2 linked regions of the Homo sapiens genome follow. The protein of the gene in region 2 interacts with the protein of the main gene of each other region in a biochemical or structural test. Each region holds a gene or a part of one and is shown on either strand. Other genes may lie near its edges. The genes, in order: MFHAS1 and CUEDC1.

What was found.
Region 1: the proteins of CUEDC1 (region 2) and MFHAS1 form a complex in vitro, tested with the Homo sapiens proteins (one large-scale study listed by BioGRID and IntAct).

The regions. Positions count from the first base shown.
Region 1 is NC_000008.11:8,792,622-8,796,437, forward strand, and holds part of MFHAS1 (malignant fibrous histiocytoma-amplified sequence 1), read right to left. Parts: intron 1-3,816. UniProt on the Homo sapiens protein: Probable GTP-binding protein. Functions in innate immunity and more specifically the inflammatory response as a regulator of the Toll-like receptor TLR2 and TLR4 signaling pathways.
Region 2 is NC_000017.11:57,882,097-57,885,912, forward strand, and holds part of CUEDC1 (CUE domain-containing protein 1), read right to left. Parts: intron 3,784-3,816; 5' UTR 3,469-3,783; coding exon 3,133-3,468; exon of another isoform or gene 3,076-3,132; intron 1-3,075.

The sequences.
Region 1 (3,816 bases), on a different chromosome or scaffold from region 2:
AAACAAACCAAAAAAAACTTACTGACTGCATGAACTAGGTGTTGGATAAGACACAAGTTAACTGCAAATAGGCAGGAGATTTCTTTTTGGGGTGAAGGAACGTTCTAAAATTAGATTGTGGTGATGGTTGTATAAATACAACTCTGCAAATACGTTAGTAATCATTGCACAGGTGAATTTTCTGGTATGGAAATTATACATCAATAAAGCTTTTAAAAATGTATCTGTCACAATCTGTATCCTTGAGGAGGCCAGAATTTTTCAGAGCGACCCAGGCAAATTTGCTACTAGGTGAATGTTCACCTCATCTTAAATGCAGATATCCTTGAAAATCATCTCAAGATATTCAAAGCATGGAAATGACTCACATTTCTATCTGATAATCAGCAAGGGGGAGAAGAAGCCACTCAGCTCCTGTTTCTCCCTGGAGGGTGAGGTGCAGAAGGGGAGGCATTTCATCCTGTTCCTGAAACCTCTTCCCAATGAAACGCTGGTGGAGACCTCAACCACCAATCCACTGAGACAAGTTATAAGAGTAAATCATGTTGTTAAAACAAAAAAAAAAATATCACTACCTACTTCTTATTCTCTGTCTCTCCCCATGGGGGAATAAAATGTCTACAAATTGTTTAAAATAAGAAATAGAAAAGCTTGGAATTCATTTAAAAAAGGCCAATCAGGTAACAGTCATCTACAGTTTCTTCTTTATAAAGAAAGCATTGCAGCACCATTAGTCAAAGACAGGCAGTTAAATGACAAGTCTCTGATTTGACCAATAAAGGAGAGGGCTAAACCAGCCAAAGAAGAGCTTGGAATGTCTTTTTAAAAACCATCATGAGATCCAGATCAGCCACCTAAGCCCCACAAAAGCCAGCAATCACCTAGGGTAATTATTCTGGTCTACCTGGGAGCTTTCTCTAGGGCACCCATCATCCCAACATGACTGACAGCCGTCCCATCACTCTCAATCCTCTCCTGATTTGAACAGTGAGTGATATGTTCACCTTACCTGAGAGTGGGAGGGACTGTGCTGAGGCTGAGAGCAGACAGCATGGACAGTTTTGCCTTTGTGCTGCAGAGCAGGTATTGACCACAGAGCAGTCCTAAGGCCCCACTGGCCAGGGAACCCACCCTTAGAGGCATGGACTGGAACTGAACCATCAGAAAGTCGTGTACACACGTTAGACTCATCTGGGTGGCTTCTTCTGTTTTTTAGTGACTCATGCCTGGTCCCTTCCCTGAGAAATTCTAACTTAACAGGTCTGATTAAGAAAGCCTGACCTTGGCTGGGCACGGTGGCTCATGCCTGTAATCCCAGCATTTTCGGAGGCTGAGGCAGATGGATCACTTGAGGTCAGGAGTTCGAGACCAGCCCAGCCAACATGATGAAACCCCGTCTCTACCAAAAAATACAAAAAATTAGCTAGGTGTGGTTGTGTGCGCCTGTAGTCCTAGCTACTTAGGAGGCTGAGGCAGAAGAATCACTTGAACCCTGGAGGTGGAGTTTGCAATGAGCTGAGATCGCACCACTGCACTCCAGCCTGGGTGACAGAGTGAGACCCTTTGTCAAAAAAGAAAAAAAAAAGCCTGACCTCTATGGTGACCTGCTTAAGTTACCTCGGCTGGAGTTGAAAGCCAGTGCAATAGCCCCGGACTTCCAATGTCTAGTGCCTGCTGAGACCCCAAGTCTCAGGCTCAGGCCCAAGCTGTGTTGACTTAAGCACAGATTCTTTGCCAGCTATCCTAACCGATCCCCCCAAATCTCCCGCTTCCAATCCACTGTCAACCACCCATGAATGGGACCTTCCCCGGAGCCTGGCCCGGCCTCCACATGAGTTTGTTTTTGTCCATGTGTTCATGGATGTAAACTGTGGGTGCTTAAGGCGGTGAAGGTGGGGGAACACTGGGCAGCTCGAGCACAGGCTTCACATCTACGTGTGCTTTTCTATAAAGTCACACAAGAGATCATTTACCCCTTGCAGCTGCACTAAAATATGGTAATTTTCCAAGAAACGTCTTGCCAGGAATATGAAACTTCCCTACTTAGAGAACATTCCTTCATTTAGAGTTGAGAATTATATTGCAAAGCTGTCATCCATTTCATGAGACTTTTTTTTTAACCTCTTTCAAAATAAAATGATTCTGATAGCTAGGTCAAAAGTGGTTCAATGCCTAAAGAGGCTTCCTCGGCATTTGGATGTCTGGCGCCATGTACCGCCGCTTACCCATGACTTTAGGCTGCTTGTTCGTTCAGGTTCAATACGCTGTCGAGAGAGAGGCTGATAACATTTTTTTCAGGTTGGTATAAACGTGGTCTTTCTGCGGCAGTACAAGAAGCCCATGGGAAAACACTGATAAAGCTGGCTTGGTGCCAGGAAGGTTTCTAGCGCAAATGGATATTTTAACTCCTACCTCTATCGCACCTATTCGACGGCACTTGGCTATGGCAAAACAATAGGTTCATGTCTCTCTTGGCTCTGGAAAGTTTACGCCAATGCAAAGTATATTGAATTTTTGTTTCCTCTGTTTCATACCTTGCTGGTTCTGTAATATCCCCTTGAGCTTTAAGAACTTGCGGGGTATTAAAAAAAAGAGACAGAAGAAAAAGAAAACATATAATATCCCCTTATCCATCCTCACCCAGGTGTATCTGAAAGAAAGGGACCAATATGTACAATTTCAAAGAAATTAAAAGAGAAACAATAAAATTTCCGTTGTTTGATATGTTCAGGACAGGGGATATTCAGGTTAATATTCGGTTGGTGCAAAAGTAATTGTGCAATTACTTTTAACAGTTATTCTGTAATCCTATTTTAATATTTAAGAAGCACTTCAAGATTCACAATGTCTTAGGGTCAGTGATAAATTAAACTATGCACATGATAGTTAAATAGTACTCTGAATACAAGAGCATTAGATAACAGTTTCCCTTGGGTGTTCGGTGATATTTTCCAGCAAGGATAGATTAGGGATGTTCTATGTAATGAGTTTCCCAGTTTGGAGAAACGGGGCACTGAGCCGAGTGCCCTCTACTTCTACTGCAGCAGCTAATGAGTAAGAATGCCACTGGGAACCCTCGCTTTGCAGGGAGCACACCAAAGGCAGGGAAGCTGCCATGTGAGGGGTGAGATGGATGCCTGTCACACTGCCTGGAATGCAGCCGGACAGCAAGTTTCCCAAGAGGAGATGACAGGTCACAATTCCCAAAGGCGCACTTTCCAAGCTCCCTAAAAACAGGCTTAGATTCATACATAATTTTTTCATTAAAAAATTCCATGTGGCCAGCTAGGAAGAAAGAGTCGAGTTTGCTGCATGGATATGAATACTATGCTGGAGAAATCATGGTGCTGACATCACCCAGATCATGAGATCTGACCCAAGAAGATCTGTGGCTGCTGCTTTTCAGGATTTGAAGTAACAGGCATTTCATCTCAGCTTAAAAGCGGCCTCTTTGGTTCTTAATACAAACAAAACAAAACGAAAAACACACATACATAAAACCCAAACCAACAGGATGAGTGTTATCTAGAATAGTAGTAACCCAATGTTCTATCTGAAAGTTACTTGGCATGTGTGCGTTCTCTGTCTTCAAGTCCATTTTGGGGCAAGGTGGTGGCAAACTGCACAGCCCTTGATTTTCAGGGACTGACTCCGCAATCAGAACCATGCAACAGAAAACGGCCTATTACTGACTTTCTGCAGGCTTTGCTCATGGAATGGGCCTGCGCTGGTTTTTGATGTGAGAGCCAACTTCATTCTGCAATGACAGAGTTAAGACTGCCCGTCAAAAAACTATTTTCTTTTGTAATCCCAGCA
Region 2 (3,816 bases):
GGGTCTAGGCCATTTATCTGACAGGAGATACTTCTCCATGGCAAGGATACCCCTCGGGCCAGCCCACCATCCATCAGCCCCCAGAAAGGGTTTTTTTTTCCAGTCAGCAGTTATTGTCATTCCAGCTGTGGCTCATAAATTTTCCGAAGCACTTTCCGCTGGCTCAGGAGCTGCCTGCCTATGGGCCCAGGCAGAGTTCCAAAGGTGGGGGGTTGGGGAGACTGCCAAGGGAGGGGAGGGGTACCGGGAGGGGGCTCAATTTGGAGAGCAAGATTCTTAGAAAAACAGAAGTGCACACACAGCAAGGGCCTACCTAGGGGGTGGTGAAGCCTTGCAGAGGTCTATAGGACTGTGGGGGCCATGGACAAAGGAGAAAATACTACCCTACCTGCCAGACTGTCAGGGCAAATCAGACTGCAGAAAGGGTCAGAGCTTGCAGAGAGCTTTCCTTCCAGTTCACACTTAAAGCATATACAGTTGACTCTCAAATAACAAGAGTTTGAACTGCGTGGGTCCACTTATAGGTAGATTTTCTTCCACCTCCACCACCCCTGAGACAGCAAAACCAACCCCTCCTGTCCCTCCTCCTCAGCCTACTCAATGTGAGAAGATGAGGATGAAGCCCTTTACGATGATCTACTTCCACTTAATGAGTAGAAAATATATTTTGTCTTGCTTATGATTTTCTTAACATTTTCTTGTCTCTAGCTTACTTTATTGTAGGAATACAGTATATGATACATACAACACACAAAATATATGTTAGTCGACTGTTTATGTTAAGGCTTGAGTTAAGGCTTGAGGTCAACGATAGGCTATTAGCAGTCAATTTCTGGGAAAATCAAAAGTTATATTAAAAAGTGGATTTTTGACTGCAAGGGGAGGATTCACTGCCCCTAACCCCTGCATTGTTCAATGGTCAACTGTATCTGCAGACACACACATACATACGCATACTCTCACTCTCTCTCTCTCCTTCTTTCTACAAAGAGGATCCATATTTTCCAATATTCCTTCCACCACCTACTCCAAGCAGATCAAAGGAGTGGTCTCCCAAGGAGAGAGACAATAGAAAACTGTACAAAGACAGCAGCAACACGTACTCATTCAACAAACACTCCCTGAGTGCTTGCTATGTGCGTGGATTGTCCTGGGTGCTGCAGATGACACAGGGATGAGCCAGATGTCTTGGCCAACAGAGCTTTTCCACCTCTAGGGGAAGTCTCAGCAGCACCCACTAAGGAGGAAAAGCAAGGAGACTTTGCCCTGCAGGATGGCTGATGAACAAGGGTAATAATAATGCCACAGCACAAAGTTTGTGAGGATTAGAAGAGATGACACATCGGGCCAGGTGCAGTGGCTCATGCCTGTAATCCCAATACTTTGGGAGGCCGAGGCGGGCAGATCACCTGAGGTCAGGAGTTCGAGACCAGCCTGGCCAACATGGTGAAACCCCATCTCTACTAAAACTACAAAATTAGCCGGTCATGATGGCACATGCATGTAGTCCCAGCTACTCGAGAGGCTGAGGCAGGAGAATCGCTTGAACCTGGGAGGTGGAGGTTGCAGTGAACCAAGATCGCGCCATTGCACTCCAGCCTGGGCGACAGAGCAAGACTCTGTCTCAAAAAAACAAAAAAACAAACAAAAAAAGAAGATATGATACATCTAAAGCACTTAGGATGATGCCTGGCACGGGTCGGGACTCAATAAAGAGTGGAGTTAAATCCTGCTGGGTCCTGGTCTTGTCCATGGCTGCATGTCCCAGATGGCCCTGTGGACAACACCCCTCTGATTAACAGGCTCTGTGTGCCTCATCCTTCTGCACCAAGCACCTCAGGCTCTGCTGATACTGGGTGGCCAGATGTCCACTGAACTCGGGTGGGACTGGAAAGGACTCACAACCTCCAGCAGGTGGGTACTGATGCAGTACGCAGGTCCCCTCTCTCCAGCCACTTCCCTGGAGAGACTGCTTGGCTATGGCTCACTACTGTTTCCATCAGGCCACAGTCAGAGGGATTTAACTGGCAAGTCTGATTCCTCACTCCCTTTCCGTGGCTATGCTCCCAGGATACAGCCGCACTCTTTTTCTTTTCTTTTTTTTTTTTTTTTTTTTTTTGAGACGGAGCCTTGTTCTGTCACCCAGGCTGGAGTGCAGTGGCATGATCTCGGCTCACTGCAACCTCTGCCTCCCGGGTTCAGGCGATTCTCCTGCCTCAGCCTCCCGAGTAGCTGGGACTACAGGTGCGCACCACCACGCCTGGCTAATTTTTGTATTTTTAGTAGAGATGGGGTTTCACCATATTGGCCAGGCTGGTCTCGAACTCCTGAACTCATGATCCACCTGCCTCGGCCTCCCAAAGTGCTGGGATTACAGGCATGAGCCACCTCGCCCGGCCCCAGCCGCACTCTTTTTCTCAGCGTCAGGGCTTTGTCAACCTCATTGATCTCCTCTCACTCTAGGACCCTGACAGATGGTCCTGCTGCCAGTTCCCTAGCCAGTGAGGCACTATTTCACCTCCCAGACTCTGCACAAGCTGTTCCCTTTGCCTGCACACCCTTCCCCCGGCTTCACTCTTCCTTTGGGTCTCAGCTTAGGGTTTCGGCTTAGCCATCGCTTCCTCTGGGAAGTCACTCCTTTCTGCTGCTTCCACGTCTCCATCGAGCACTTACCACTCTGGCCGTCAGTACCCGACTCGCGCTTCTAGTCCACACTGGACTGTGAGCTCCAGGAGGGCAGAAATTTGGTCTGACTTGGCCACTAGCGGACTCTACGCCTGATGTGGAGTTCAGTATGTTGGGGTGGGGCCCAGGCACCTGCATTTTTAACAAGCACCTTGATTCTGATGCCTCCTGACTCAGGGTCTAGTGCCACGTCTCGCACACCACTGAGTGGGCGCTCAGTGTTTGTTGAATGACTGCATGATTTCTGCCCATAAAATAAGGTGACTGACGGATGGTACTTTTCCCTAGGGGAAGTAAGGCTGCTTGCTAATTAGAACCCAGATAGCGGAGTAACCCAGGTCCTCTTAGAGGTTCCAGTGGTGGTTGGAATTACCCGGGCCGTGCCCCTACCTCCGGGGGGATGCTGTCCTCCAGTGGTGGTTGGAATTACCCGGGCTGCGCCCCTACCTCCGGGGGGATGCTGTCCTCCGAGTCGGAGCTGTCCTCATAGACGCCGCCGCTGCTGCCACCGCCCTCCAGGTTCATCTGCAGCAGCTGGTCGATGGTGGCGTCCACAGCGCCGCTGTTGGCGCGCAGCACGCATTCGATGATGTCGTAATCCATGTTGGGGAACATGGTCTTGAAGTCGTCCATGGCCTGGTTGAACTCCAGGCGGCGCACCTGGCGGGCAGGCCGGCTGTTGTTGAGCTCCTGGGGGGCGGCCGTGCCTCCCCCGCCCCCGCGTGCCCCGGCGGTGCCACCCCCGCCGCTGCCGCTGCTGCTCCGGCGGAACAGGCTGGTCATTTTGCGGAGCCGCTTGGGGAAAATGTTTCTAGCCGGCCGCAAAGCCCCTTCCCCAGGGTCTTTCCGCCGTCAGCCGCTTACTTGCCCTGCGGTCTCGGGCAGCTCACTCCTGCGCCTCCTCCTCCCCGGGTAGCCAGGCAGCAATGGGCTGCCAAGAGCTCCGGGTTAGGAGAGTACGGGCGCGGGGCCCCAGGCAGCCCTTGGAGAGCGGTCCTCGCGGGGCGGTGGCATGCGGGACCGGGCCGTGCTGGGGCTGGGCGGCCGGTCATCCACACCCCCGGTGCATCCTGGCACCGGTTTCACGGATGGTCCCACCTGAAACCGAAAGAGATGGAGTCAGGGCCGAGG